5 linked regions of the Homo sapiens genome follow. The protein of the gene in region 1 purifies or fractionates together with the protein of each later gene. This does not show direct contact. Each region holds a gene or a part of one and is shown in the gene's direction. Other genes may lie near its edges.

The links.
Region 2: the proteins of AAAS (region 1) and ARMC6 purify together in Homo sapiens (co-immunoprecipitation; one large-scale study listed by IntAct). This does not show direct contact.
Region 3: the proteins of AAAS (region 1) and SAAL1 purify together in Homo sapiens (co-immunoprecipitation; one large-scale study listed by IntAct). This does not show direct contact.
Region 4: the proteins of AAAS (region 1) and NUDCD3 purify together in Homo sapiens (affinity purification with a luminescence readout; one large-scale study listed by IntAct). This does not show direct contact.
Region 5: the proteins of AAAS (region 1) and RAMP3 purify together in Homo sapiens (co-immunoprecipitation; one large-scale study listed by IntAct). This does not show direct contact.

The regions. Positions count from the first base shown.
Region 1 is NC_000012.12:53,310,166-53,315,164, reverse strand, and holds part of AAAS (aladin), read left to right. Parts: intron 1-24; coding exon 25-71; intron 72-315; coding exon 316-414; intron 415-723; coding exon 724-867; intron 868-4,999. UniProt on the Homo sapiens protein: Plays a role in the normal development of the peripheral and central nervous system.
Region 2 is NC_000019.10:19,042,061-19,048,640, forward strand, and holds part of ARMC6 (armadillo repeat-containing protein 6), read left to right. Parts: intron 1-625; exon of another isoform or gene 626-650; coding exon 651-817; intron 818-1,931; coding exon 1,932-2,014; intron 2,015-6,580.
Region 3 is NC_000011.10:18,087,905-18,094,484, reverse strand, and holds part of SAAL1 (protein SAAL1), read left to right. Parts: intron 1-2,160; coding exon 2,161-2,240; intron 2,241-3,991; coding exon 3,992-4,051; intron 4,052-4,194; coding exon 4,195-4,310; intron 4,311-4,974; coding exon 4,975-5,155; intron 5,156-6,580. UniProt on the Homo sapiens protein: Plays a role in promoting the proliferation of synovial fibroblasts in response to pro-inflammatory stimuli.
Region 4 is NC_000007.14:44,405,755-44,412,334, reverse strand, and holds part of NUDCD3 (nudC domain-containing protein 3), read left to right. Parts: intron 1-6,580.
Region 5 is NC_000007.14:45,180,429-45,186,468, forward strand, and holds the end of RAMP3 (receptor activity-modifying protein 3 precursor), read left to right. Parts: intron 1-2,728; coding exon 2,729-2,984; 3' UTR 2,985-3,822; downstream 3,823-6,040. UniProt on the Homo sapiens protein: Accessory protein that interacts with and modulates the function of G-protein coupled receptors including calcitonin gene-related peptide type 1 receptor (CALCRL), calcitonin receptor (CALCR) and G-protein coupled estrogen receptor 1 (GPER1).

The DNA.
Region 1 (4,999 bases):
CCTGTGTCTATCTTGTTCTTACAGCTCAGGAGCGAAGATCTGATCGCTGAATTTGCCCAAGTCACAAATTGGTGAGTGCACAAGCCCTGGAGCTTTGTGGAAAGGAAGTCCTGAACCTCAAAACTCCCTTTGGGGAGAAGGCAAAGACTCCTACTCCTTTTCTGATTGCTCACCATATTCTCATTCCTCCTGTTCCCCCAAAAAAGAATACAAGAAAAAGTAGGAAAAAACCATGTCCTTACTGGAAATGAATGTGAGCTTCTGGGCTAGGGTAGGGATAGGTGCAGGAACTCTTCATGTTAACCCCTTCCTTAGGTCCAGCTGCTGCTTGCGTGTCTTTGCATGGCACCCCCACACCAACAAGTTTGCAGTGGCCCTGCTAGATGACTCAGTCCGTGTGTATAATGCCAGCAGGTGTGTGTGGGGACACCAGGTGGGCTCTGACTTGTCAATATCACCTTCCCTTGCCAGCCTTGGTTCCGGGGAGTCCTGTAGTTCTTGAACCTGATTCATGGGGCTCCTTCCAGAACTGGGGTCAGGGAAGCTCCATAACTGGATGCGTGCTTCTTCTAGACCTAACCTTTATCCCCTCCTGTCCTATGGTGCCCCTGGCCCCTGGATGGATCATCCTTCTTCTCTGTGGCTTTCCCTCCTTAACTGCACTCTGGTCCCTGGAGCCTTAGTGTTCCTGCCTTGACTCAGTTTCCTGCCCCTTCACCCTAGCACCATAGTCCCCTCCCTGAAGCACCGGCTGCAGCGAAATGTGGCGTCTCTGGCCTGGAAGCCCCTTAGTGCCTCTGTCTTGGCTGTGGCCTGCCAGAGCTGCATTCTTATCTGGACCCTGGACCCTACCTCCTTGTCTACCCGGTAAGTCCTAGTAGCCTGCCTTACCTTGGCCTGAGAGTTGTGCAATGCTAGGCATGGTGGGTGGTGAGGACGTCTGAAAGGAGAAGTTCTTTGTCCTCACAGCACTTCCCAGGGCTATGGGAAAAGCAGAAGTAAGATCAAGGTGGGTTGCTGAGAATACTCTAATCTGGAGAAAGAGAACTAGGGGCTTTTTGGATTGTGGGGACAATGTGTCTGTGGGTTACGGGGTGGAAAGACTCTTTCAGAGGACTATACACTTCCTTTACACTTAAAGGAAGTGTAAAGAAAATTAGTACTAATAAGATCAGAAACTAATAAAATTAGAAAAAGAATACCTGTGAAAACTAACTAAAAATAAAACCAGAAACTGGTTCTTTAAATTATGACTAAGCTGGGTGCGGTGGCTCATGCCTGTAATTCCAACACTTTGGGATGTGGAGGCGGTTGGATCACCTGAGGTCAGGAGTTCGAGACCAGCCTGGCCAACATAGCAAAACCTTGTCTCTACTAAAAATATGAAAATTAGCTGGGCATGGTGGTACACACCTGTAGTCCCAGCTACTCGGGAAGCTGAGGCAGGAGAATCGCTTGAATCTGGGAGGCGGAGGTTGCAGTGAGCCAAGATCATGCCACTGTACTCCAGCCTGGGCAACAGAGCGAGACTCTGTCTCAAAAAAAAAAAAAAATTATGAATAAAGGCTGGGAACAGTGGCTCACACCTGTAATCCCAGCATTTTGGGAGGCCAAGGCGTGAGGATCACCTGAGGTCAGGAGTTTGAGACCAGCCTGGCCAACATGGTAAAACCCGTCTCTGCTAAAAATACAAAAATTAGGCCAGGCGCAGTGGCTCATGCCTGTAATCTCAGCACTTTGGGAGACCAAGGTGGGTGGATTTCTTGAGGCCAGGAGTTCGAAACCAGCCTGGCCAACATGGCGAAACCCCATCTCTACTAAAAATACAAAAAAATTAGCTGGACGTGGTGGTGCGTGCCTGTGATCCCAGCTACTTGGGAGGCTGAGACACAAGAATCACTTGAACCCGGGAAGCGGAGGTTGCAGTGAGTTGACATCATGCCACTACAGCTGTACTCTGGTCTGGGCAACAGAGTGAGACCCTGTCTCAAAAAAAAAAAAAAAAAAAAGGCCAGGCGCGGTGGCTCACGCCTGTAATCCCAGCACTTTGGGAGGCTGAGGCGGGTGGATCATGAGGTCAGGAGATAGAGACCATCCTGGCTAACACGGTGAAACCCCATCTTTACTAAAAATACAAAAAATCAGCTGGGCGTGGTGGTGCTCGCCTGTAGTCTCAGCTACTTGGCAGGCTGAGGCAGGAGAGTCACTTGAACCTGGGAGGCGGAGGTTGCAGTGAACTGAGATCACGCCACTGTACTCCAGCCTGGGCAACAAAGCAAGACTCTGTCTCAAAAAAAAAAAATATATATATATATACACACACACACACATATATGTTTTATATATATACACATATATATACACGTATATATATATATACGTGTATGTATACGTGTATATACGTATATATATGAATAAAGAAGAAAACCTCTTGGTTAGCCTAATTAAGGAGAAAAAGAAAACCAAAGTATACTATTTTCAGAAGTGGAAAGATATAGATACGGGAGAAAATAGAAGAATTATAAAAGAATATTGTGGACTTGTTTAGGCCAACAGATTTGAAAATCTGAAGGAAATGTTTGATTTCTTTTTTTTTTTTGAGAAGGAGTTTCACTCCTGTTGCCCAGGCTGGAGTGCAGTGGCACGATCTCGACTCACTGCAACCTCAGCCTCCCGGGTTCAAGTGATTCTTCTGCCTCAGCCTCCCAAGTAGCTGGGACTACAGGCACGCACTAGCTAATTTTTGTATTTTTAGTAGAGATAGGGTTTCACCATATTGGCCAGGCTGGTCTTGAACTCCTGACCTTGTGATCCGCCCGCCTTGGCTTCCCAAAGTGCTGGGATTATAGAAGTGAGCCACCGTGCCCTGTGGAAATGTTTGATTTTCTAGCAAAATATAAGTTACCAAAGTGGATTGTAGAAGAAAATAATGAGATTTTTTTTTTTTGAGATGGAGTTCCACTTTTGTTGCCCAGGCTGGATGGAGTGCAGTGGTGCAATCTCGGCTCACTGCAACCTCTGCCTCCCGGGTTCAAGTGATTCTCCTCTTGACTTCGTGATCCGCCCGCCTCAGCATCCCAGAGTGCTGGGATTACAGGCGTGAGCCACCATGCCCGGCCTGTCCTCCCTTTTTTTTGTTGCAGGATCTTCCTGATTTATTTTTATAAAGCTAATGTAACCCTGATACCTAAACCTTGACAATAGGTACTATAAGAAAAAAACACGTGATCACAGATTTTTTTTGGGGGGGGATGGAATCTCACTCTGTCGCCCAGGCTGGAGTGCAGTGGCGCCATCTCAGCTCACTGCAACAACCTCTGCCTCCTGGGTTCAAGCGATTCTCCTGCCTCAGCCTCCCAAGTAGCTGGGACTACAGGTGCGTGCCACCACACCGGCTAATTTTTTATTTTTAGTAGAGACAGGGGTTTCACCATATTGGCCAGGCTGGTCTCAAACTCTTGACCTCAGGTGATCCGCCTGCCTCGGCCTCCCGAAGTGCTGAGATTACAGGCATGAGCCGCTGCAACTGGCCTGTTTTTTGGTTTTTTTAGAGATGGGGTTTCATTATGTTGCCCAGGCTGGAATACAGTGGCTATTCACAGACTCAATCATTGCACACTACAGCCTTGAACACCTGGGCTCAAGTGAGCCCCTTGCCAAGTAGCTGGGACTATAGGTGCGTACACCACGCCTGGAAGGTTGTTGGTTTTTTTTGTTTCTACTAAAAATACAAAAATTAGCTGGGTGTGGTGGCGTGCGCCTATAATCCCAGCTACTCAGGAGGCTGAGGCAGGAGAATTCACTTGAACCCAGGAGGTGGACGTTTCAGTGAGCTGAGATAATGCCATTGTACTCTAGCCTGGGTGACAAGAGCGGAACTCGATTTAAAAAAATTTTTTTAAATAAATGAACAAAAAACAAGGCCAGGCGTGATGGCTCATGCGTGTAATTCCAGCACTTTCGGAGGCTGAGGCAGATGGATCGCTTGAGCCTAGGAGTTTGAGACTAGCTTGGTCAACATAGATGCTGTCTATACAAAAAATAAAAATAAAAAAACTAGCTGGGCGTGGGGTGTACGCCTGTAGTCCTAGCTACTTTAGAGGCTGAGGCAGGAGCCTCAGGACTTTGAGGCTGCAGTGTGCTATGACTGTGTCACTGCACTCCATCCTGGAGTGTGAACCACCATGCCTGGCCCAGGAAATATTTTTTACAGCATTATGTATAATAAAAAATTACAAACAAGTCAAATGTCCATTTGTAGAGGCATGACTCAATAAATTATAGTTCATCTATTGAGTGGTATACAATGGAGCCACTGAAAAGAATGAGATGAATCTGAACCCACCTGCAAAGGCAGCTGTGATTTATCATAAAGTTCAAGAGAATTAAATTGTACATCCATGACTAAGACTTCACTGGAGCTGAAGGTGGTTATAGTTAGGTGGAAAGAGAGGTGGCATTAATTCAGGTAGTAGCCTTCGTCTGTCAGGCCAGGCACATGGCTCTGGAAATACACAGCTGCAGACACATGGCAGGTGCCCTCAGGTAGTTCCCTGCTGGTGATGGAGGCCGAGCCACATGCTGCATCTTTTTTTTTTTTTTTTTTGAGACGGAGTCTCGCTCTGTCGCCAGGCTGGAGTGCAGTGGTGCAATCTCGGCTCACTGCAACCTCCGCCTCCCGGGTTCAAGCAATTCTCCTGCCTCAGCCTCCCAAGTAGCTGGGACTACAGGCGAACACCACCACGCCCAGCTAATTTTTTTGTACTTTTAGTAGAGACGGGGTTTCACCATGTTGGCCAGAATGGTCTCGATCTCTTGACCTCGTGATCCGCCCACCTCGGCCTCCCAAAGTGCTGGGATTACAGGCGTGAGCCACTGCGCCCAGCCTGCAGCATCTTTATGATAAGGAGCAAACGCGGGAGCTGCAGAGTTGGGAGGTACTTTGATAAGGCAAGGCAGGAGGGCTGTTTGGGAGCACAGGATGTGTTCTGAGGAGTGT
Region 2 (6,580 bases), on another chromosome or scaffold:
TTTTTATTTTTATTTTGGTAGAGACAGACTTTTGCCATGTTGTCCAGGCTGGTCTTGAACTCCTGGGCTCAAGCAATCCTCCTGCCTCAGCTTCCCAAAGTGTTGGGATTATAGGCATTGACCCACTGCGCCCAGCCAGAATCTTTTTTCTTTTATTCTGATTCCTAATAAGATAATCATTATTATTTGCTACATCCGTAATAGTTTCAGAATAACATTACTAGTATCATTATATTAAAGAACCACCTTTCTTAGATAAAATGTAGTAAACTCTGTGTTCTCTCCTACACTTTGTTTTTTTTTCCCAAGACAGGGTCTCACTCTGTGGCCCAGGCTGGAGTGTAGTAGTGTGATCATGGCTCACTGCAGCCTTGACCTCCCAGGCTCAAGTGATCCTCCCACCTCGGCCTCTCAGAGTGCCGGGATTACAGGCTAAGCCATCACACCCGGCCTCTTCTGTATTTGCAGAAGTTCTAGGGAAGTAGGGATATCACCCTTTCCTGTGATAACAGGTGGGAAGAATTTCTCCAGGGTGGTTGTAGGGCTCTGGTCGCTGGTAGATGCTTCCTAAGTGGCGTTTTCAAGGTGGCCAGGCCCTGCCATTGCCTGCTCACCCTTGAGGTAGCTCTCTCTTTGCCCTAACCTCTCAGCTCAGGAGCATCTATCGGCTGCACGCCAACATCAACACAGGCGAAGATGGTCTCCAAGCGCATTGCCCAGGAGACCTTTGATGCAGCTGTGCGCGAGAACATCGAGGAGTTTGCGATGGGGCCAGAGGAGGCAGTGAAAGAGGCCGTGGAGCAGTTTGAATCGCAAGGTAGGGTGGTGTGACTGTCACCTACCATCCTTGGCTCTTAGATGCAAGAGCAGTGGGAGAGCCCTGCTGCCCCGCCCCACTGGGGGTGCCACATGCCTGGCATAGAAACCAGGTGCCATTGGGCCCTGTCCCCTCCAGCTTCTGCCCGAGGCAGGCTGGTTATCCTGCTCCCACCTCTCACCTGCTTCCACCTCGCCCAGATATTTGTGGGCTGGATCCTTCTCATGAGTCTCATTTGATCACTTCCTTGAAGAGACTTTCCCTGACCCTGGCCTGGGAAACAGGGCCCCTGCCTCCCTGCCCTACTCTACCCTACCTCGAGCTTACAGAGGCAGAAGCAGCCTGTGGAAACAGGTGGCATGTTCAGACCAGGTGCAGATGAGTGTGGTTATGAGGGGCTGTTTGCAATGGTGTGGGTGGGGTTAGGAGACCACCCCTAGCACAACTAGCTCCGGCAGAGACCCTGACTGCAGGGAGCAGGAGTCCTGGGCAGGGGCCACATGATGGGTGCTGGGCCCTGGGGCAGAGGCAGGGGGCTGGGAATGAACACCCCACACTCCCCTCCTCCTGCCCCCATCTCAAGTTCACTTCCCCATTGAACAAACCCAGGGTACAGCCTGAGAGGTCAGAGGTCAGCCTCCTAGGCACAGAGTGGGGTATAGAACACTAGACAGGGGCCAGTGGGACAAGCAAAAGCGTCCAGCACTGTAGGGGCTCCCTGTGGGGGTGCCAGCAGGGGCAAGAATGCAGCCAGAGCCAGGAGGGATGGGAGCCCCAAGGGAGAAGGCTGTGGGGTCCCTCCCTCCCCCACCAAGCCCACCAGGCAGCATGTGGCACCTCACTGCACAGACGTGGCCTGTGATGACAGCCTTGTGTGACAACGGCCTCACTACCACTCTGCTCCCTTTGGCCCACGGACCAGTGGCAGAAACACCCAATACCCTCTACACCCCCGTGATGATGTGGCATGGGCGGGAATAGGGAGGTGGGAGGCTTCTGGAGTGGGGTGGTCCCAGCAGAAGGGTCCTGAGGTGTGATTCCAGCAGGCCCACGGGGATGACAGCTGTCACTTTCTTTCTGACCCCTGTGTGCTTGCTTCCCCCACCCCCAACAGGGGTTGATCTGAGCAACATTGTAAAGACGGCACCTAAAGTCTCTGCAGACGGATCCCAGGAGCCCACACATGACATCCTGCAGGTAGGAGTGGGCATCCCACACAGCAGGTCCTGCGTCACCTCTGTCTGGGGGCACCTCTTCCCTGTTTCCTGGATGGCAGAATACAGGCTCTGAAGGTCATGCCCTCCCCAGCATGCATGGGCAAGCTTGAGTTTGCAGCCAGGTCTCCCTGAGTCCATGTCCGAGGGCGGCATGCCTTCCAATGCAGGGGATCCCAGGCTCCTGTGGTGGCATGTATGCTGAAATCAGGTAGATGGCTTGGTTGTCCCTGCTGCTGGGATCCCAGAGTCAGGGACACCATAGAGGTGCCCCTCTGGCTTCCCAGAGACAGATGGTCAGGACTCATAGGACGAGAGAGTGGGCTCACAGTAAGGCTGTCACTTACTGAGCACTGACTGTTTACCAGCACTTTCCAGCCAGTCCGTTAGCACTGAAGCTCACCAGTGAAGTAGGTGGTGTCATTCCTGTCTTAGTGATGGGGAAACAGGCCAGGAGCTGGCACTTAACCTCTCCAGAGACCGAAAGAAGGAAGGTAAAAGAACTTCAATGCTTTCCGTAAGGTCGCCCATCAAACTTTGTAATACAGCAGAAGGCTCCGGTGTTTGAGAACCGACTGTGGGCCTGGTTCTGTGCAGGTACTTTTTTCCTGTCTTCTTGGTCACTGTCCAAACAACACCTGCAAGGCTGGGATTTCCCCATTGTAGAGATGGGGACATTGAGATCCAAAGAGAAGAGAAGTCATTGACATGGGAGCAGGAGGTGCAGTGATAGGAGAGGAAGTTGGAAGAGACGGCTCTGGGTGTAAACCCGGCTTGCCTAAGGCATGACACTTACTTCTCCCTACCTCGGGGTCCTGCCCTCTCCTGCCTTGAGGAGGTCTTGTGAAAATTGCCTCGTTGTTGTTAGTTTGCTTTTTGCCTTTCTTGCCTAATAAGGATGAATTTATTTTATTATATATATATTTATTTATCTATTGAGACAGAGTCTCACTCTGTTGCCCAGGCTGGTGTGCACTGGCGTGATCTCAGCTCACTGCAACTTCCACCTCCCAGATTCAAGTGATTCTCCTGCCTCAGCCTCCCGAGTAACTGGGATTACAGACACACGCCACCACACCTGACTAATTTTTTTGTGTTTGTAGTAGAGACGAAGTTTCACTATGTTGGCCAGGCTGGTCTCGAACTCCTGACCTCAGGTTATCTGCCCGCGTTGGCCTCCCAAAGTGCCGGGATTACAGGCATGGGCCACAGTGCCCAGCCTGGATGAATTTATTTTAAAATGAGTTTGTCTTCTGGCTATCTTTGCATTGGGTGATTCATCTTTTTCCTACTGATTTGTAGATGAAGTTTATATAGGAAGGATCTCAATAACAATATCGTCTATATTGTCTAGCAGTTACTGCTTAAGTACTTCTTAAGTGCTCAGCATTATGCTAAATTCTTTTTTTTTTTGAGACAAGAGTCTCACTCTGTTGCCCAGGCTGGAGTACACTGGCGCAGTCTTGGCTCACTGCAACCTCTGCCTCTTGGGTTCAAGCAATTCTCCTGCCTCAGCCTCACAAGTAGCTGGGATTACAGGTGCACACCACCATGCCCAGCTAATTTTTTTTTTTTTTTGAGACAGAGTCTCGCTCTGTCACCCAGGCTGGAGTGCAGTGGCGTGATCTTGGCTCACTGCAAGCTCTGCCTCCTGGGCTCACGCCATTCTCCTGCCTCAGCCTCCCGAGTAGCTGGGACTACAGGCGCCCGCCACCATGCCTGGCTAATTTTTTGTATTTTTAGTAGAGACGAGGTTTCACCATGTTAGCCAGGATGGTCTCCATCTCCTGACCTCGTGATCCGTCTGCCTCGGACTCTCAAAGTGCTGGGATTACAGGCGTGAGCCACTATGCCCGGCCTATTATGCTAAATTCTTAAAATATGTTCTCTTAATCTGTGCTCAGCCCATCTTGCTGGTGAGGTATCTGAGGCTTCCCAAGGATCAGTGACCACGCCCCTGCACCCCGAAAGGTCAGCTGGTGAGAGGCAGAGCTGGTACCCGGATCCAGGAAGCAAAGCACTGAAAGGCCGTTCTACCAGCAGTACAGGAAACTCCGTGTTTGTTTATAACATTCGCTCCTTTTTTTTTCTTAACTGTTCTTTTATTTATTCATTTATTTATTGAGACAGAGTCTCGCTCTGTCGCCCAGGCTGGAGTGCAGTGGCGTGATCTTGGCTCACTGCAAGCTCCACCTCCCAGGTTCATGCCATTCTCCTGCCTCAGCCTCTGGAGTAGCTGAGACTACAGGCGCCTGCCATGACGCCCGGCTAATTTTTTGTATTTTTTAGTAGAGATGGGGTTTCACTGTGTTAGCCAGGATGATCTCGATCTCCTGACCTTGTGATCCGCCTGCCTCGGCCTCCCAAAGTGCTGGGATTACAGGTGTGAGCCACCACGCCCAGCCTATTTATTTATTTTTTGAGATGGAGTCTCACTCTGTTGGCCAGGCTGGAGTGTAGTGGCCCTTCCTCAGCTCACTGCAGCTTCCTTCTCCCAGGTTCATGCAATTTTCCTGCCTCAGCCTCCCGAGTAGCTGGGATTACAGGCGTGCACCACCACGCCCAGCGGATTTTTGTATTTTTAGTAGAGATGGGATTTCACCACATTGGACAGGCTGGTCTTGAACTCCTGACCTCAAGTGATCTGCCTGCCTCGGCCTCCCAAAGTGTTGGGGTTATAGGCATGAGCCACTATGCCCAGCCTATTTTTTGTTTTGTAGAGATGGGATCTTGCTATATTGCCCAGGATGATCTTGAACACCTGCCCTCAAGTGACCCTCCCACTTTGCCCTGCCAACATGCCAGGATTACAGGTGTGAGCCAACATGCTCACCTGTTTTTTTTTTTTTTTCTTTTTCTATTTCTTTTTTTTTTTTTTTTGACACAAACTCTCACTCTGTCACCCATGCTAGAGTGCAATGGCAGGATCTCGGCTCATTGCAACCTCCACCTCCCAGGTTCAAGTGATGCTCCTGTCTCAGCCTCCTGAGTAGCTGGGATTACAGGTACCTGCCACCATGCCTGGCTAATTTTAAATTTTATTTTTCATTAAGGAAGAGTGGAAATACATTCTTAGCATAAAGGATTCAAGCAATACTCAAGCATTTATAGTAAAATCTGAAAGTCCCTGCCTTGTCCCTCCCACCAGACACTGGGGTTTGCATCTCAGCGGTCAGTTCGCAACTGAACCAACCCCCTTCTCAAATGCCCTGCAGCATAATTGACCTTTGTGCATCTTGGCTTAGATGTGTAAAAAATGCTTATCTGTTGAGGGAGAAAAAAATTCAACATTGTGATGGTCGTTGAAATTAATCTGTTTGTGTCATAAGATTTGTTGCAAACAGGCTTGTAGAAACAGAAGGAAAATAATGTCTGGAGACTGTCCAGGGAAAAACTGAGCCAGCCAGGCCACATTTATATGTGGGAAGTTGTAGAATGAAAGGCATTAGTCACAGAGACTGAATGACTCCAGGAGTCAATGGGTAAAGCCCCCCTCCATGAGCAAGGTGGTGAGCGCCACAGAAAATTGTCATAGGTAGAACACAGCTGGCTCTGCCACCTGCATTTTAGCAACCATCTGTCAATGAAAATACTCTATAAAATATTTCAAGAGATTTATTCGGAACCAAATATGAGTGACCAAAGGCCCATGACACAGCCTCGGGAGCTCCTGAGAACATGTGTCCAAGGTGGTCGGGCTACAGCTTGGTTTTATACGTTTTAGGGAGACATGAGATATCAATCAATACATGTGAGACGTACATTGGTGTGGTCTGGAAAAGTAGGGCAGCTGAAAGCCGGGGCTTCCAGGTCATAGACACATTTAAAGATTTTTCTGGCCAGGTGCTGTGGCTCACGTCTGTAATTTCAGCATTTTGGGAGGCTGAGGTGGTCGGATTGCATCGAGCTGAGGAGTTTGGGACCAGCCTGGCCAACATGGCAAAACCCATCTCTACAAAAAATACAAAAATTAGGCCACGTGTGGTGGCTCACACCTGTAATCCCAGCACTTTGGGAGCCCAGGCAGGTGGATCACCTGAGGTCAGGTGTTCGAGACCAGCCTGGCCAACATGATGAAACCCCGTCTCTACTAAAAATACAAAAATTAACCGGGCATGGTGGCAGGTGCCTGTAACTCCAGCTACTCAGGAGGCTGAGGTAGGAGAATTGCTTGAACCCGGGAGGCAGAGGTTGCAGTGAGCCAAGATTGCACCATTGCACTCCAGCCTTGGTAACAAGAGCGAAATTGCATCTCAAAAAAACAAAAAACAAAAAACAAAAATTAGCTGGGCATGGTAGTGGGTGCTTATAATCCCAGCTACTTGGGAGGCTAAGGCGGGAGAATCACTTGAATCCAGGAGGCGGAGGTTGCAGTAAGCCGAGATCATGCCACTGTACTCCAGCCTGGGCAACAGAATGAGACTCAGAAAAAAAAAAAAAAGATTTTCTGATTGAAAGAGTTATCTAAAGACCTAGAATCAATAGAAAGGAATATTTTGCTTAAGACGGGTTGTGGAGATCAAGGGTTTATCAAGGAAGCCTCCAGGTA
Region 3 (6,580 bases), on another chromosome or scaffold:
TCAGGCATTCTCTGCTTGCACGCTCTACAGTTGTCCCTTGGTATACATGGGGGATGGTTGCAAGACATTCCCCCATACTGAAATCCACACATACTCAATTTAGCAGTCAGCTCTGTGGAACCTGTGTGTATGAAAAGTCAGCTCTGCATATTGTGCAGGTTTTGCATCTTGAGGACACTGTATTTTCAGTCCAAGTTTGGTTAGAAAAAATCCACCTATGAGTGGACCCACACATTCAAACCTGTGTTCAAGGGTCAGCTGTACTCTCTAACCCTGAATTCTGTATGTCCTCAGTGATTTATGGTCACACTTATCTAATCATAAAAGTCACCTGGTATATGCTGGGTAAACAATAGCTTTCCAGGCTCTACCCTGGAAATTATGATTCAGTAGATCTGAGATGAGATTTGGAAATCTGTATTTTTAACAAGCTCCCTGAGTGATTCTTATGTTCCAGCAAGGTTGGAAACACTGTACCATCTGAACTCATTGTAGCCTTTTATGCACTTTCTTTTTTAGTTTTCCTGTCAACGGGACCAATATCACTGATGGGGAAATGAGGCAACTTGAAAGCTAGGAGTCAAGTTCAACTGCTTTCTCCTTTATCCTCACACTGGATTATTTTGCTTTCACCTTGAGAGTCTTCCTCAGCTTCATCCTTTTCCATGCCTGAGGGCCCTCCTCCTCTTGCATCTTGATAACTGAGGTGCAGTTTGGAATAGTGGTTAAATGCTCAAGCTCTGGAGCTCTGCCGTGTTCTAGTTGGAGATCTTAAGATCTTAGGCAAGTAGCTTAACTTCTCTGTGCCTTAGTTTCCTCATCTGAAAAAATGGGGATACTATTAGTACCTATCACCTAAGTTATTATATGAAATTATACACAGAAAATGCTTAGAGTAATGCCTGGCCACCGTGAGTGGTAATAAACTGTTATTACATATTAATTAACTATTACTGAGATAGATTCTTAAGTTCTTTTCAACTTCTTTTCCCTATACACTAGTCTCCCCTTATCCTTGGGGGTTGCATTCCAAGGCCCCCAATGCCTAAAACCGAGGATAGTACTGAACCCTATTTATAATATGCACAAATTTCCTTTTCCTTCTTCACAGTTTCATGGATAGATTTGTTCTTAGAGATCCTAAGCAACCTCAGCATACATTTTTGTTTGTTTTTCTTATGAAGTCAAGAACTTTTACCTTTTCATGTAAAGAAAGCACTTAATGGCGGCTCCTTGGCATATCCAAATTGCCAGCATCACTACTCTTGTGCTTTGGGGTCATTATTAAGTAAAATAAGGGTGACATGAACACAAGCCCTGTGAGATATCCCGATGGTCGATCTGATAGCCAAGATGGCTACTAAGTAACTAATGGGCAGGCAGCACATACAGTGTGGATATGTTGAACAAAAGAATGATTCACATCCTGGGTGAGACGGTGCAAGATTTCATCGTGCTGCTCAGAAAGGCATGCAATTTAAAACATGAATTGTTTATTTCTAGAATTTTCTATTTAGTACTTTTATACCAAGGTTGACCATGGGTAACTGAAACCATGGATAAAGAGGGACTACACTAATACATTATGCATTTCGCCACCAGAGTAATCTTCCTAAGATACTGTTTCAGTATGTTGTCTCCCCTCCTTGAGCATCTTCATGATTCCAAATAACTTCCCAGATTAAGTCTAATTCTTCAGCACGGCATTCAGAGCCCTTAATCTCAGTCCTTTATACCTGCAGTATTTACCTCATGCTGTTCACCCACTTTGTGCCACAACCAGAGTACTTTATTGTCTACAGTATTCGCCATGTACATGATTCCCTTCCTGCCTTTGCTGATACTTTCCCCTTATTTGAATGTCTGTCTTTTTGTTTGCATATCTCATTCCTATCAATCATTTAAAACTCATTTTATCGATAGAAGTTCTTCTCGCATAGCTCCTGCCTTTGCCCTTTCTTGTTCTTACGTTTTTCATCCCTTCTCAAATACTGTAAGCTTGTCAAGGTTAGGGTACAGGCAGTATATGTATTTCTTTATCCTGCCTCCCCTCCGCCTTGCCCCAAAACTTGGCTCAGCGAAAGTTTTTGTTCAAGTTGATATTTTTGTTTACGTCTTTCGTCTCAGAGCCATTGTGACTTGTAAAATTTGATTTGGCAGGAAATCTGTGTGGGAATTTTAGGTAATATGGCCTGTTTCCAGGAGATATGTGTGTCCATCAGCAGTGATAAAAATCTTGGGTAAGTCTTACTATATAATTATGTTTTTTAATATATTCATTTATATCCTTAAGGAAATTCTAATACATAGGAAAAGTAGCAAATCTGAAAGACAGTCCTTTCTTTGTCTTGATGAACACTCTGTGGGAACTTCATTGTGTGTTGATGATAGCTAGGGGCTTCTTCAGGAGATACTGAAATGATTCAGGATTTAAGCCTGTTTTCTTCAGTAGCAAAGGAACCTGAATTGTCAGCTGGTGGCAATAAGCCAGATAGGGGAAGAACCAGTGGGCCAAAACTTGGAGATGGGGCAGCCAACTGGAATCCAAAACAGTTTAGGGGCAGGGAATCCAATGACTCAGCTGGAGTCTACAGAAACTAGATTTGTTGAATAATGTCATCCTGAGAGCTCTGACTTAGAGTGTAAGACTTGCCAACAACTGGAAGATAAAGGGTTGCCTCTCTGATGAAAAGACTTTCAGATATCTGCTTCGAGGCTCGTTCTCTTCTCCATGTGTAAAGTTCTGGGCAGAAGGTGTTTTAATGGAGGAAACCCCAGTGGTTACTGTGTTCGGAGAACACCCCGAAATTATATGCTGAATTTTGTGAGTGTATTAGTTTTCTAGGCAAAGGGTTCATGGCTTTTAATCAGAATCTCAAAGAAATTTGTACCCAAAATAGGTTAAGAAAACTGTTCTAGGCAGTTTTTGTCAGAGCTGGGGCCATGAGGGTTTTATCACAGGATTCAAGTACCTGGGTTTCTCAGAAAGAGAGAACTCCTAGTTGTGGAGGGACTTTAAGATCCTAGTTCAGAGTATTTATTCCTCAGTAATTTACCATCATCCATGGAACAAATGACTTAAGATTATGTTTGGTCTCTAATGTTCTCTATCAAAAATCCAAAAATGAGAAATGTTAACAAATGTTATAAATTCAGTTAAATGCTTGTCTTAATATTAGTGTGGTGCAATTTATATTGCTGATGGGATATAAATTTGTTGAACCACTTTAGTTGGGCATTATCTGGTCACGTTGGAACATATGCATGTGCTGTGACCAGCTCATAGTGGGCATATATGGTAAGAGAAACTGTGCACGTGTGCATCAGGATAACTCTTAACAAATATTGTAGGAGGATTGCTTGAAATAGCCCCAAATTGGAATCAACAGAAATGTCCATCAACAGTAGTCTGGAAAAATAAATTGTGTTATTTTCACACAATGGAGTGCTCTGCAGCAGTCTGTCAAAGAATAACAGCTAAAGAAACAACATGGGTAGATCTTACATGTATAATTTTCAGCAAATAAATGAAGACTCAATAAGTATAATTTATTTCATATGTTGTCTCCCCTCCTTGACTGTCTTCATGAATCCAAATAACCTCCCAGATTATGTCTATTTATTCAGCATGTCCTCTTAATCCTTTTACCTGCAGTATAAAGCAACACCAAAATATATAAAATAATAAAACTATAGTGCAAAGTAAGGAAATGATTGCTGGAAAAATCAGAATGGTCATCATTTCTAGGTGGGAAAGAGAATTGTGATTTGGAATGGACACATGGTGACTACAAAGATGCAGCTCTGTTCTGTTTCTTGGAAACACGAGTGTTTGCTTTATAATTATTTATTAACTATAGATTTGTATCTTTTGAGCTTTTCTGAATATATGCTGTATTTCACAATAAAGATGTTCAAAAAATTAAATGAAAACTCTGATATTTTAAATGCGAGAAGTGAGGCATATCGGTTAACTTCTTTGTTTTTGTAGGCAGGTGTTATTGCACTGTTTGTATGATTCAGACCCACCTACTCTGCTGGAAACAAGCAGGTATGCTTTTCCTTTTATGAATTCTATAAGGTTACTCATAAGAGTAGATAAGAAAAAAAAGTTAATTTTTTATTTTCGAATTTCCTTTACTGTTTTTTTTTTTTTTTTGAAAAGTAGAAATTCAACCCACGTTTACCATGTAGGTTGTTGCTTACTTGCCTTTCCCAGGCAGAAGTGGCCAGTGTTTGGGTTGAAAGGATCCAGGAACATCCAGCTATTTATGATAGCATTTGCTTCATTATGTCAAGTTCAACAAATGGTAAGTCATCATGTACTCTAGAAAAAAAATGTTTTAAATTGTATCTAATTTTTAGGAAACCATGTAACTATTTCTAGAAGTCACCTTTTTAAAAAAAGCCTTGAGTGCAAGGTAATGAAGTTTGTTTGAGACAGAATCTTGCTCTGTCACCCAGGTTGGAGTGCAGTAGTGTGATCATAGCCTACTACAGCCTCAAACTCCTGATCTCAAGGTATCCTTCTGTTAATCTCCCCAATAGCTGGGACTATAGTCATGCACCGCCATGCTCAGCTCATTTTAAAATTTTTTGTAGAGACGGGGTCTCGCTTTCTTGCCCAGGCTGGTCTCCAACTCGTGTGTTCAAGCAGTCATCCAGCCTTGGGCTCCCAAAAGTGTTGGGAGTATAGGTGTAAGCCACCATGTCCAGCTTTTTGTTTGTTTTTTTGAGAAAGTTTTTTGATTGAAGATACAAAATTTCTTAAACTCCTGGGACACTGATAAATTCCTCATTTAAAAATGAGGAAAGATAAGCAAATTTAAACATAAAAGATAAGTAAATCACCCTTTAGAATAAGTACTGCTTTGGCAAGATTTGGTTTTCTTAGAATAGCTTTAGGAATTTTGCTTAACCCTATTGCTTTTAGCAGTTTGTTTTTCATTTCAATATCTGTTTTATTCTCTGCAGTTGACTTGCTGGTGAAGGTGGGGGAGGTTGTGGACAAGCTCTTTGATTTGGATGAGAAACTAATGTTAGAATGGGTCAGAAATGGGGCTGCTCAGCCTCTGGACCAACCCCAGGAAGAGTCTGAAGAGCAGCCAGTGTTTCGGCTTGTGCCCTGTATACTTGAAGCTGCCAAACAAGTACGGTAGGTGAGCTCTTTTGTGTAAAATGTTCTGGGAAAATGCAATTGCTAGAAGTATTCTCAGATATAAAAGTCTTCTTATATTCCTTACAACAGAATAAAGTACATAGTCACTCCTTGTTACGTTAATTCACTACTACTATTTGTGATGCAACCTGTATAGTGGTTACAAAGTTCCTGTTATATTATCATTTAGCTATAGGCTGTTACTCAACATTAACTGTGGTTTCTGTCTTACCATATTTTATGTAATTTAAATCAAAGAGAAAACATTTTCTTGTGCTTTATTTTACATTGAACATTTAACAACTTCATTAACGTTGCACATCATTTGCTTTTTTTTGCTCCTTGTGTTTATATGCCAGTCTTCAATAAGTGACCGATGTTGGGACTCTGATGTCTTGCCAAGAGTGATTACTAAGCCTTACAGGTCATTAAAACTGTTTATTGCTAATCACTAGAAAATTAATTTTTAAATTGATCTGCTTAGTGTTTTTCTTAGTGCATTCTTAGTGCTGAGTAAGCCACATCAAAACCTATTAATTTTGTGTCCTTTATCCAAGTGAGGGATAAATTCATCATCTTTCCCTAAACCTGCTTCATCAGTATTCTCAATCTCAGTAAATGATGTAATCATTATCCTATTTGGATAATGTAGAAGAAATGGAGAAGCCAATTACTGAATCTTTCCTGCCCCAGTATTTTCCCATTGCAGTCAACTCCCAACCCTTATTCCTGACATTTTCTGGGATTCCATCCATGCCAATCAAGCCATTATTGTTTCTCATCTGGAGAACTGCCACATTCTTTTACTTGAATTCCCTGCCTCTATGCTTGCTCTTCCCAAGCCTAGACTTTAAAGCTGTTTTTGCAAAGTACGCACTCATTTCACTCTCATGCTTCGGTCTTTTCAGTTGCCTTCCTTAGGATAAGGTCCAGAAAAACAAACAAACAAACACAGCTTGGGTACTACATACATCACCTGGGTGATGGGACCATCCATATTCCCAAACCTCAGCATCATGCATGTAACAACCCCCAACATGTACCTTCTGAATCCAAAATATAAATAAATAAAATAGGGGAAAAAAGAATGAAATAAATGAAAAATTCTCAAAAAAATAAAGTACAGCTTATGGACCCAGTAGCGCTATCCTTATTCCTTGTACTCTGCGTTTCAGTCATGTGAAGTTTGCGTCACTTCTTCAACTGAACCAGGCTGTCTTGTCTCCAGGCCCTTGCACAGTATGTTTCCTCCACCTCAGACACTTCTTTGCCCCTTCATGTTTCTGTGTAAACATCATTTTTCTTAAGATACCTTCCCTGACCCTGCAAACTAAGTCTCCTTGCTTTGTGAAGTTCCTAGCCCATAGTGCTACATTAGTACCACTTTATTGTAATTACCCCACTTGGAATCTTCTTTCCTTT
Region 4 (6,580 bases), on another chromosome or scaffold:
ACAAGTTGTATGTGAATAAGGATTTTGTGCCATGTTGGTTGTGAGTACTCTGGGTTTTAAACCAGTTTTTGCATCGAATATAACTTTAATTATGCTCAGTACACGTGGATGTGTTTTTTGGATATATCCACACACAGTGTACTTGCATGTGTATCTTCATCTTATTTATTGTTTGGTAAGGGACACATTGCTCAGCTTCCTGGATATCTTCCTAGTCTTAGAGGGGCCTCAGTGGTAGAGTTCTTATCAGAACCTAAGGGTGATGACCTCTGGCCTGTGACATGGCATCTGCCTGAACATGAGTGTGCCACAAGATTGTATCTAAGGTGGTCTCAATCTCTTTTCTTCCTTCAGACTGCCTTGCTTGTCCTTTGCTGGCATCTGAGGACTTGTCCTGTGGAATGAGGCTAGAAAGAGGCGTCTCTGTATTTCCCCACTGTGCATCTACTTGTACCTCCAATCTTTCCCTTTACCACCCATACATGGACATATGCTTCCAGTTCTCTGGACATATGTTTTCTGTCTTCACCACTAGGGTATATACCTATGGGTGGAATTGCTGGGTCATGTGGTACCTCTATAATTAACTTTTTGAGGAACTGTCAAACAGTTTTCCAAAGTGGTTGTACCATTTTATATTTTACAGATCCACCAGAAATGTATGAGGGTGCTTATTTCTCTGTATCCTCATCAACCCTTGTTATTGTCTGTTTTGGTTTTGTTTTTTAATTGTAGCTATCCTACTGGGTATGAAGTAGGATTTCATTGTTTTGATTTGCATTTCCCTCATGACTAATAACATTGAGCATCTTTTTATGTCCTTATTTTCCACTTGTGTATCTTCTTTGGCGAAATGCCTATTCAAGTCCATATGCATGTTTTAATTGGGTTGTTTGCCTTTTTATTGTGGAGTTGTAAGACTTCTTTACGTATTCTGGATACTACACCCTTGTCAGATACATTATTTGCAGATATTTTCTCCCATTTTATGGGTTGTCTTCACTTTCTTGATACTACTCTTTGAAGCATAAAAGTTTTAAATTTTGATGAAGTCAATATTTTTTTTTTTTGCTTTGGCTGCTTGTGGTGTTATATCTAAAACCCGTTGCCTAACCCAAGATCACAGATTTTAACTCTTGCATTTAGGTTTTTGATCCATTTTGAGTTTAAAAAATTTATTATATGCTATGAAATAGTTGTCCAACTTCATTTTGAATTATTAGACCAGTTTCATTCTTTTGCATGTGAATACTCAGTTCTCATGGTACAATTACTTGAAAATACTATTCTTTTCCCATTGAATTGTCTTGGTACTCTTGTCTAAAATCAATTGATCATAAATATATGAGTTTGTTACTAGACTTTATTTTGAGATAGAGTCTCGCTCTGTTGCCAGGCTGGAGTGCAGTGACGCGATCTTGGCTCACTGCAACTTCTGCCTCCTGGGTTCAAGCGATTTCCTGCCTCAGCCTCCCGAGTAGCTGGAACTACAGGCACGCACCACCATACCTAGCTAACTTGTGTATTTTTAGTAGAAATATGGTTACCCCCTGTTGGCCAGGATAATGTCGATCTCTTGACCTCATGATCTGCCTGCCTCGGCCTCCCAGAGTGCTGGGATTACAGGTGTGAGCCACCATGCCTGGCCTGTTACTAGACTTTTTTTTTTTTGAGACAGAGTCTTGCTCTGTCCCCCAGGCTGGAGTGCAGTGGCAGGATCTCCACTCACTGCAAGCTCCACCTCCTGGGTTCACACCATTCTCCTGCCTCAGCCTCCCAAGTAGCTGGGACTACAGGCACCCGCCACCACACCCGGATAATTTTTTTTGTATTTTTAGTAGAGACGGGGTTTCACCATGTTAGCCAGGATGGTCTTGATCTTCTGACCTCGTGATCCACCCACCTCGGCCTCCCAAAGTGCTGGGATTACAGGCGTGAGCCACTGTGCCTGGCTGTTTTTAGACTTTTAATTCTGTTCCATTGATCTGTATAGATGCCTGTCCTTATGCCAGTACCACACTGTTTTGATTACTGTAGCTTTATAGTAAGTTCTGAAGATTTTATTCCTTGTTTTTGTTCTGTTCCTTCATTATTGACTTGGCTTTTTTGACAGTTTGATTATGACATCTAGGTGAGGCTGGCTCCCTTTTAGTTTATTTTACTTGGAATTCATTGAGCTTCTTGGGTGTAATTTTTTTCATGTCAAATTTGGAAAGTTTTTAGCCATTATTCTTTCAAATATTCTTTCTTCTTTTCTCTTCTGTATGTTGGTATGCTTAATAGTGTCCCTCAGGTTCTGTGACTCTGTTTATTTTTCTTCACTGTTTTTTCCTCCTGTTTCGCAGTTTGGGTAATCTCAATTGACCTGTCTTCAAGTTTGCTTGTTCTTTCTTCTAAATGCTAAAAAGTGGTTTTGAGCCCCTTTCATGAACGCTTATCTTTTCCCCCTTTTACTTTTGAACTCCAGAATTTGTATTTGATTCTTAAAAAAATGGTAATAATAATTTCTATCTCGTTATCAGTATCAATAGTGATACTGATATTTATTGATATTCTCTACTTAAAAGACGTTATTCCCATACTTTCCTTTAGTAATTTTTGCATAGTTTTCTTAGCTCTTTGAGCATATTTAAAATAGGTGATTTAGAGACTGTTTTCTGCTAAGTTCTTCATATGTGGGCTTCCTCAGGGACAGATTTTATTGATTGCTTTCTTTTTCCTATGTATGGGCCATACTTTGTTGTTTCTTTGTCTAATTTTTTTTTTTTTGCTGTTATTGAGAAATGGATTTTTAAATAACACAATGGGGTGACTCAGGAAATCAGATGCTCCTTTCTTCCCATGGTTGCTATTGGTACGTGATATAGTTGTTCTTGTTTAATGACTTTTCTGAACTAATTCTGTAAAGTTTGTATTCTTTATTGTGTCTGACCAGTGAAATCTGTACTTGGTGAACTTAGTGGCCAAGTAATTATTAGATGGCGATTTCCTTAAACTCCTGGGATCAGTAAACACCTGTTTTTGTCGAGGGGCTTCATCTACCTGTTGGAGCATACCTTCATTGCTTGGCCTAACAGTTAAAAACTGCCTTAGCCTTTATTTCCTGCTGATGTTGAGTCAAAGTCAGCCAGAGGTGAGAGCTTAAGGCCTTCTTAGGTTTTTCCTGAGTGTGCAGTGAAGCTCTGTACATTCATGTGTCTTTCTAGATTCCTGGGAAAATGTCAAAGCTTTTCAAAGCCCCCACGGACATTTTATTTCCCACCTTTGCCTTTGGTTTGCCTCAGTTGTTATCTGCCACCTCAGGAGGCTGCAAAGTTAAAACACTTGCCGTATTTTCAACAGACACTCCTGGGTTGGGAGGAAGGCTTTTCTGAGTTTAGCCAGAAACAGTCAGTCAGTCTTGCAAATGAGGTCTTACAGGGAACCATCAGACAGGTCAAATGATGACAGTTCTTTGAGAATGAAGCTTTGAAAGAGCTCTAAGAGCACTGTTTTCTCCAGCGATGGCTGCTACGCTGTACCAGGAATGCGGCCTGCTGAGAGCCTGGAGAGTGGGGATGGGTCTAGGCCAAATTAAAATATCACAGAGCTCACTGTTCTTACTGAGATGTGGTTGTTTTCCTTGAATTAATGCTCCCTGGGTTCCTGCAAACCTTTGGTTAGTTTCCAAAATCCATAAGAAGTTGATACTGACAATTTTTGCCAACTTTTTGGTTGCTTTTATGGAGGAGAGCTTTTTGGAGGCCTGTAGTAACCACCATTTTCACTGACATCCTTTGGATCAGGAATCTCTTAAATCTTTTTTGTTTTCCTGAGGGTTCTTGCTGCCCTTCTTTTTTATCTTGTTATCAAAAATAGTATACTTCATCATAACCTCAGAATTACCCAGATTCATTAATACTGAGTATTGTCTAGAAATCTCTTTCTGCCTGAACTCCACTCTAGACTGGTTATTTCCTGTTCTGCTGTATAGCTACACTCCTGGTATTTTCTTCCTGCGTTTATAGATTAAATGCAGTTTTTGGACTTGAGTTGGATATTCCTCTTTTTCAGTTTTCATCCTCATTTTGTTTTTCTCAAAGTGATATATAATGTAGAATTGTTGTATATCTTAAAATGCATTTATTTTAACTTTTCACTTATTTCTCAGTTTGGGTGTATGTAGAATTCTAGCTTAAAAATAATTTTCCCTTGTTAGGATTGAAAGGGATATCTTCTTACACTCTGTGTAATTGATTCTGGAAGTCTATTCCATCTCTTTGTGAGTAAGCTTTTTCTCCTCCTTGGAACTTTCAGGACCTTTTTAAAAACACCCAGTGTCATAAAATTTCATGAGTCTTTCATTCATTCTGCTTAGCTCTTGGTGGGACTTTTCAATCTGGAGGCATATTTTCCTTTGGCTCTGGAAAATTATCTTATTACTGTCATAATTTCTGGAATGCCAAATTGATTGCCTGAATTGATCTGTGTTTCTACCTTGATTTCTTTGACTTTATCTTCCAGCCTCTTTATTGAAGTTTAATTTTAGCTACTGTATTTTAAATTCTTGTGTTCTTTCTTTTTGGCCTAATTGTTCTATTTTCATATTTTATTCTGGTTATATGGATATAGTGTCTTCTCAGATCTCTGTGAAGACATAAAATAGAAATATTTTTGGATATCTTTTTTCCAAATTAGCTCTGTATTTTTTTTTAACTTGTTTTCATCTGCCTGTTTTTTCTCACAAGATGCAGTCTTCAGTTCTCTAGTTTTTTTTTTTTTTTTTTTTGAGACAGAATTTCACTCCTGTTGCTCAGGCTCCTGTTGCAATGGTGCAGTCTCGGCTCACCGCAACCTCTGCCTCCCAGGTTCAAGCGATTCTCCTGCCTCAGCCTCCGGAGTAGCTGGGGTTACAGGCATACAACACCACGCCTGGCTAATTTTGTATTTTTGGTAGAGACGGGGTTTCTCCATGTTGGTCAGGCTGGTCTCGAACTGTCAACCTTAGGTGATCTGCCTGCCTCGGCCTCCTAAAGTGCTGAGATTACAGGTGTGAGCCACCATGCCCGGTCTTTTTTTTTTTTTTAATACAAAAATATTTTTCTCCCATTCTCTTGAGTGTGGGACCGTATTGATGGGTTTGTCTACTGTGTGTCTGAAACCTGCTCGTCCCACCACCACCGACAGCTGAGTGGATTGACCAGTCAGCTTTGCTTTATAGGACATAGGGTCTTGGCATCCTAATGCTTGAGTGAGTAGGACTTCACTTGACACACAGGCATCCACACTAGGTCCTCAGACTGCTGGTCAGTGTCTTTGGAGCAAGGTCCTCCATTCTTCTGTAGCAAACAGAGGGATTCCTGTCCCTTTCAGTGGGGCGTCCAGGGCCACAGCAGTTCCCACATGTGCCCCTGGCCTTGCTCCTGCTCTGCATACCTGCCGACTCCCAACTGGAGCCTATGTAGCTGTGGCTTCTGGATGTCTCCTACCCTATAGGATTTGTCTCCTGTGCCCCTCCTCCTTTTGTCTTCTGCAGATTTGTTGACATCTCATCTGTTCCTGGCCTCCCTCTTCCCCCATTTTCACTGTCTGGGGTTTTTCTCTTCATGCCTATTATGCCTGCAGTTCACAAGAGGTCAGAGAGATGGCTGTCTGTTCCCAGTGTGACATCTTCACCTGGGACCTCTGGAAGCATTTCTTGTCTGGTTTTCTCCCTTGATGATTTGGTTCATTCCCCTGGGTAGGCAGTGTGAGAAGCTTCCCCAAATTTGGAAATTATTATGTTATATAGAGCTGGGTGGGAGAATTATATTTGTTAAGTGAGCTTGTTCTTGTGAAGGCAGGCTGAGGAGCCTTGGGCCCTCTGTGTCGTGTTTCCATTGCACACAAGTTCATGGTTAGACATGATTTGGCCCAACATGTGTCTGGATCATTTCAGGAGTGAGTGGATCTGTTGTTCCATTTGCTCACGTTCCTCATGGTGTTAGAAGGTAGGGAGTGAAGCTCAGTTGCCTATTGTTCAATAGGACTAGCCAAGTAAATACCCTTTTCCGTGGTAAATTCCCCTATGAAAGGTCATGCAAGTGGAACTGCGATCTCATGAGAGGATGCTTCCTTGGAGTCTGCATGTGAACCTGGCAGAGCCGCCTGTGGTTAGCAGAATATCTTCGCTGTGTCCCCCAGTGGGCAGCCTTCTGCCACCTTCTCCCCTCACTGCATGGCTCAGGAACTATCTTTCATTTAGTAACTATCTGATGGGCTGGATGTGGTGGCTCACATGTGTCATCCCAGCACTTTGGGAGGCTGAGGCAGTAGGATCACTTGGGGCCAAGAGTTCGAGACCAGCCTGGGCAACAGCAAGACCCCTGTCTCTACAAAAAATAAAAATAAAATTAGCCAGGCATGGTGGCACGTACCTGTAGTCCCAGTTACTCGGGAGGCTGAGGTGGAGGGATTGCTTCAGCCCAGGAGTTTGATGCAGCAGTGAGCTGGGATCACGCCACTGCACTCCAGCCTGGGCAATGCAGTGAGGCCGTGTCTCTTAAAGAAAAAGAAGAAAAACTGACAGCGGTGACTCCTGCACATCATTTCTCCCATTTCC
Region 5 (6,040 bases), on another chromosome or scaffold:
TCCCCTCAATAGGACTGGTCCACATGACGACCCCATCAGGAGTCGAGTCATGGCTGGGAAGACCCTATTCCCCAAACTCGCCCATGGCCTGCCTGTGGCCTTCCCTGGGGAGGAGTCTCATTGCCCCTCGGGGCAACCAGAGCGTGTCCTCTCCTGGGAACCTCCCTCCAATAGCAGCAATGGGCTCCTTCTGTACCCAGTTAAGGAGCATTGCTATGGGATTTCCAAATGCAACACTATATTGCCTGGGAACACACTCAGGTGGTGAAACATAAAGGAAGGTGGGCAAACACCCCAGAGGTGGGTGGGGGGAGAGGGAGTCTGACTGGGGGGTTTGCCCGGCTTCCAGCCTGCTGGGCTCCTCTCCTTCCCATCCTGGGTTGTGGTGCATCTTTTTTAGGGAGAGTGCTCTGGGGAGCCTGACTGAAGGAGGAGTGGAGAGGCCCCAGATTATCCAGGGGATGAATAAATCATAAGTAGTTCCCGGTTTTCTAGAGAAGCACTGAATGTGGACCTCTCTAGATATGTGACAAAAATGCAGATTTTGTGGATCCACAGAGATGGGTGCTGTGCTCAGCTCTGCCCCAAACCTAACAGCTGGGGTGGGCTCACCCCATGACCTCCTCTGTGCCAGGCACTTGCTGGGGCACATGGACCTCAACTCATTTGGTTCTCTCAACCACCTGATAGGATAAGTGTTATTAAACCCACTTACAGATGAGGAAACTGAGGTCCAGGGAGGATAAATGACATGGCCCATACCACAAAGATGGTGAGTGGCTGAGCTGGAGTTGGAGAGGCCCTGCCATGTTGGCTCTGCAACCTGAGCCTGAAGCCACTGTCCATGCTGTCTTCTGGGATTACCTCTGCTCCGTGGGCTTCTCCATGTGGCCTAGCTTTGGCTGGGAGTGGGGTTTGGGAACAGCAGGGGCTTTCAGCCCTGCCTCACCTCCTCTTGGGACGGTTCTGGGGCTAGACATCACTCCTCTTGCCCTGTAGACTCGCTGTCCACAGAGGGTCTTCTCCAGGGTCTGTCTGGCTCATCTCAGCCCTGGGGATGGTTGTTGGGGGGTGGCATTCCTGGGTAGCAGTTCAGTGGAATGACTTTGGAGGCACAGAGGTTACCGCATGTGATTCTCATCACACACATAGATGCTGGGAACTTCTGAAGGTGAAGGCTGTTGCAGGGTGTTGTTAGACGGCTCCCCAGCTCCTGGATCAGCTGGCGGGGGGTTGGGGTGGACAGCAGGCTACTGAATCTGAGGCCCTGTGGGAGAAGCAGGTCAGGGAAGATGAGGGTTTGTCCATGGACCTAGCTGTTGAGGTGTCTCTAATGCCTGGGCATGTCTCAGGTGCTGCATTGTGGCTGAGGCCCAGGAGAGCCAACAGCTTTGTACTTGGATTCGAGGCTGTTTCTTTTGCTCTGGCTGTTCTCTGCTGACACTACCTGGAAAGGCACAGGTGTGTGTCTGACCTACATTCCAAGGTGCTGAGAGCCAGCCTTGGATCAGTCAGGAGCTGGGCTGAGTGACTGTACCTGGGCTTCCCAGACCCTTCCTGGGGCATGGGGTTGGGAGACCAGGAGAACCCTGGGTGGAGTAGGTCAGAGTCCCTGTTTCCTACCCCTTTCTGATGCTTTGGGAAATCTACGCCCAGATGATGTTCCATGCAGGAGGCAGCTCTTTCCTGTTGATGGGCCAGATCAGTGGCTCCCTCCTGGGACAGCGCGGGAAGGAGGAGATGGGCTACTTTCCCATGGGGAAGCCGAGGCAGGACCCTTCACACTCCTGCATCTGTACTCATGCAGCACAGACGTGGGGAAGTGCTAGCCCTGCACAGAGGGGGTGGCATCTGGGCAGGAGTCCATCTAGCTTCGTCTAGAACATCCTGAATGAGTGGCTGCCACTCTAGGCCTTGCAGACCCCAATGACAGGGAGGTCATCACCTCCACAGGCTGCCCATTGGAACAGGTGGTGGCTGGGAAGTCCTTTATGCTGAGTTGACCTCTGGGTCTTGGTGGCTATAGCCCTTGGTCAGCATGAGGACTGTCCAGAGCCTGTGCTGGGCGGTCATGGAGCATCATGGGTGGTTTGCTGAGTGCCCTTCCCATCTTTGATCTCATGGACAGGGGGACCCACAGGAGGGGGCTCCACATGTCCTGCTAGATGGGGCTGAAGGAGGCAACTTCTGAGTAGGAGATGAAGAGGCAGGGACTGGGGCTCACAGGTCTGACTCCCACTTGGCCACCACCTGGCACATGAGGGCAGGCTGACTTGATTAGGAGGTGGCTGGCCCCTGGCCTCAGAGAGACCCTCCTCTCAGGCTCTTAGGGTATCCTGGATGATGAAGGCTTTGCAGGTCCAAGCGGCTGTGATCCAGGCACCCTTTGGCCCTGGAGAAGCATGGCTTGGTGTGTCCTCTGGGCAGACCTGCGTAGTGCTTAGAGGTCCAGGGAAGCTGGGCTGAGACCCTGGATCCTGGGAGCTCATGGCCTCAAAGGCAGCAAGTCATGGTCATTGTGATGCAAATGTGGGCAGGGGACACAGGGAATGGGTCATGGGCACAGATGACCCTGTGGCCAGAATGGGGATTTTCCAAGGCTGGGCTGTGAATAGGTGGCCAAATGGGACTGTACCCAAGCCACCCCACCCATCTTCCTGGCCTCAGGTCAGGGCAGGTGTGAGGGGGGATGGCGAGAGCCTGGCTTTCACCCCCTCTGCTTTTGCAGGTACTATGAGAGTTTCACCAACTGCACCGAGATGGAGGCCAATGTCGTGGGCTGCTACTGGCCCAACCCCCTGGCCCAGGGCTTCATCACCGGCATCCACAGGCAGTTCTTCTCCAACTGCACCGTGGACAGGGTCCACTTGGAGGACCCCCCAGACGAGGTTCTCATCCCGCTGATCGTTATACCCGTCGTTCTGACTGTCGCCATGGCTGGCCTGGTGGTGTGGCGCAGCAAACGCACCGACACGCTGCTGTGAGGGTCCCGGTGAGATGGAGTGGGTCACACCTGGCAAGCTGGAAGAAAGTTCCCTGGGGATGGGAGAGCGGGTGGGTGCTGCCAATCTCCAGCTACTGTGGCCACACCCCACCTGGTCATGGGCAGACCCCTCCCTTCCTGGGCTGACCTGCTCCCTCGAGGCCAGCCTGCTCCCTGGCTGAGGCTCAGGCTATCCGCCCAAGCTCTTTGCTCATTCTAGGGCCAGTGGAGGAAAATGTGATAAGGCCAGAGCTTGTGTGCTGGGCACAGAAATCACCTGCTGCATCCTGTGCTCCGCAGGCTGGGCCGGAGCCTCTGCCCGCAGGTTTCTATGCTGTTTCTTAGCACAGAATCCAGCCTAGCCTTAGCCGCAGTCTAGGCCCTGCTTGGACTAGGACTCCTTGCTTGACCCCATCTCTGGTTCCTGCCCTGGCTCCTGCACCAGCCCCAGCTCCTGCCTACATCCAGGCAGAAAGATAGGCAGGGGCTCTTGGAAGACGTTCCGTGCTGTGACCTCCGAGCCCTCCTGGTGGGAAGACAGCTGGAAAGGCTGGGAGGAGAAGGGAGGGGCTGGGGGTTCCCAGGAGCCATGCGTGGCCTGCAGAGTCCATTCCATCATGATGCTGTGCCCGCTATGGGCTGTGTCCATGACCAGAGGCTGGAGTGGGGGTGTGTTAGAGCCCCTCACCGGGACTTGCTGTGCGGATGGGGCCTGGGCCTCCTTCCTACAGGGGCTCCTCTGTGGGTGAGGGGCCCTCTGGAATGGCATCCCATGAGCTTGTGGCCTCTATCTGCTACCATCTGTGTTTTATCTGAGTAAAGTTACCTTACTTCTGGAATTTCCTGTTTTGTTTCATGTTATTCAGAGAGACGGTGCATCTCTTGGGACTGATGAGTCCCCTGTACATATTGTACAGATAGGGAACAACTGAGGTTCTGGAATCCCAGAATGTCAGCGCTTAGGGGGCTCAGAGAGTGTTACAATAGGAGAGGGGCCTGACAGGAGGAGGGACTTGCCTAGCTACTCGCAGCCCCTTGGGCACTTCCCATCCCTGACCCATTGGTTTGAGGATGACAGGGAAGATTTCTCTCTCTTCTGTTTTCCCTTTGCAGCTGCCTTGGGCTTGCTAGGACCCCTGCCTGGGTTTTCTGGGGACCGAGAGGCCCTGGTCAGGTCTGGCTGGAGGCAGATGCTGGTCCTGGGGGGTCCCTAGAGCAGGTGGAGGGGCTTTATCTCCAGGCCTCTGGCCAGGCCCTTGTCCAGGCTCCAGTTCTGTGGACCTGTGTCTTTTGCATGTGGGCTGTTGGATCCAGGATCTTCTTGCTGGATCCCAGGACCCCTGTGAGTGGAGGCAGGCACGACCCTGGTAGTTCCTCTGCCTTTAGAGGCCCAGCTCCCCTTCAATGCCCAGGCAGGCAGGTTCTGGCACTGGGGATCTGCATGGTGGATGCCACTGGACCGGAGGTCTGGGTGGGTGGCCTGAGCCTGACCCCATTGGGGGCACAGTGTAGGGGACAGAATCTGAGTCTACTCCATGTTCTTGGGGCAGCCTTGGCCGGGCATGAAAGGTTGCGATCCCCATCACCTGAGCCTTGGCCAGCTATCTCTGAGATGGGACACCATCTGCCCGATGAGGTGACTGTGTGGAGACAGGGAGGTCAGCGTGCCCACAGGTGTCAGGCCATCTGGCCTGCAGTGGTGGCTCTGTGTTCAGTGGATCCTGGGGTCTCTCATGGGGCCTCTGTGTAACTTGCTCCCTCCAGCCCATTCCGATTCCAGAACCACTCTGCACTGGGTTCCTGGCTGCTATGGTAGAGGTGCAGCCCTGCCCCTTGGCTAGTGTTAGGCACCCCCTGGTTGTGCATCCCTGAAGAAATGCTTGAAATGTGCTGAGGGAACCCCCCAACAAGGGGCTGGGACACCTGCAGCTACCTCCTGGGTCCCCTGGAACCCAAGCCCTGGAAGCTGCTCTGAGTAGGGAGTGAGCCTGGAGTCATGCTCTGGCCTCCTCCCAAGCTCTTGGGCACTGTCTTCTGATCTGCTACCTCCTCCCTGAGGACAGAGGTCCTGGGGGGCCTGGTGAGATTTCCGTGAGGGTTTGGATTCCTGGGGATGGGGTCCAATGAGGGGTGTTCTGGAGGCTTGGAGGTCCCAGGGCAGGGCCCTCAATCACTGTTTCCAGGCTAGGTAAAGCATCAGGCTCTAATTCAGTCAGATGCTGCTCTTGCTGAGTGCACTCTGGAGACAGCTTGAGTTTTTCTGCGATGCAAACTCCAAACTCGGCAGGAGTTTCAAGCTCCCTCACCAGGGACAGGGCCGGTGGGTGCAGCTACACTGCTGTGTGGGCAGATTGAGGAGTTGGGTAGGGAGCCAGGAGGCCTGTCCACATAACCCTGCAGAGGCTCACAAGGCAGGAAGGGACATCAACATTTACTCAGCCTTGATCAGGTGAAAGAGAAGTAATTATTCAGGCAGTAAGAGGATATCTATTCATGTTTCCTATTGGAATCTTCTTTCAATTTTTACTTCTCCATGTGTTTTCTCCAGGGCACCAAGGGTCTAAGGTGCCAGGCCCACAAAGGGAATGTGCTTGTGTGGGTGTATGTGTGTATGTGTGTATGTGTGTATGTGTGTGAGCGTGTGTGTGAGGGTGTATGTGTGTTGGTGTGTACATGTGAGTGTGCGTTGGAGGCAGCAATAGTGTGTGTATTCTAGGAGCTTCCTTATCTAAAAGTCTCTTACATTTCATCAGTTTACGCAATCATTATTAATGTCTCATTTTGCAGATGTGGAAATTGAGGCTCAGAAATGTAAGGGGACTTGCTGAAGAGTGGTCTTTTATATTTTCCTGGCCTGCTGCCCTACTGAATCCAGCCCTGAGAGGTGACAACTGCCTTGAGGAGCCCCTCTGGACCCTGGACCTGCATGGGTTTCCTCTGGCCAGAGCGGGTCCCTTCCTGACTGTGGCAAGTTTCGGGCATGCAGAAGGCTGCCGGGGTCCTCTAATAGGGTGACTGGCCCAGGCGGTCAGTCTGGTGCAGCCTTAGTACTCGGGT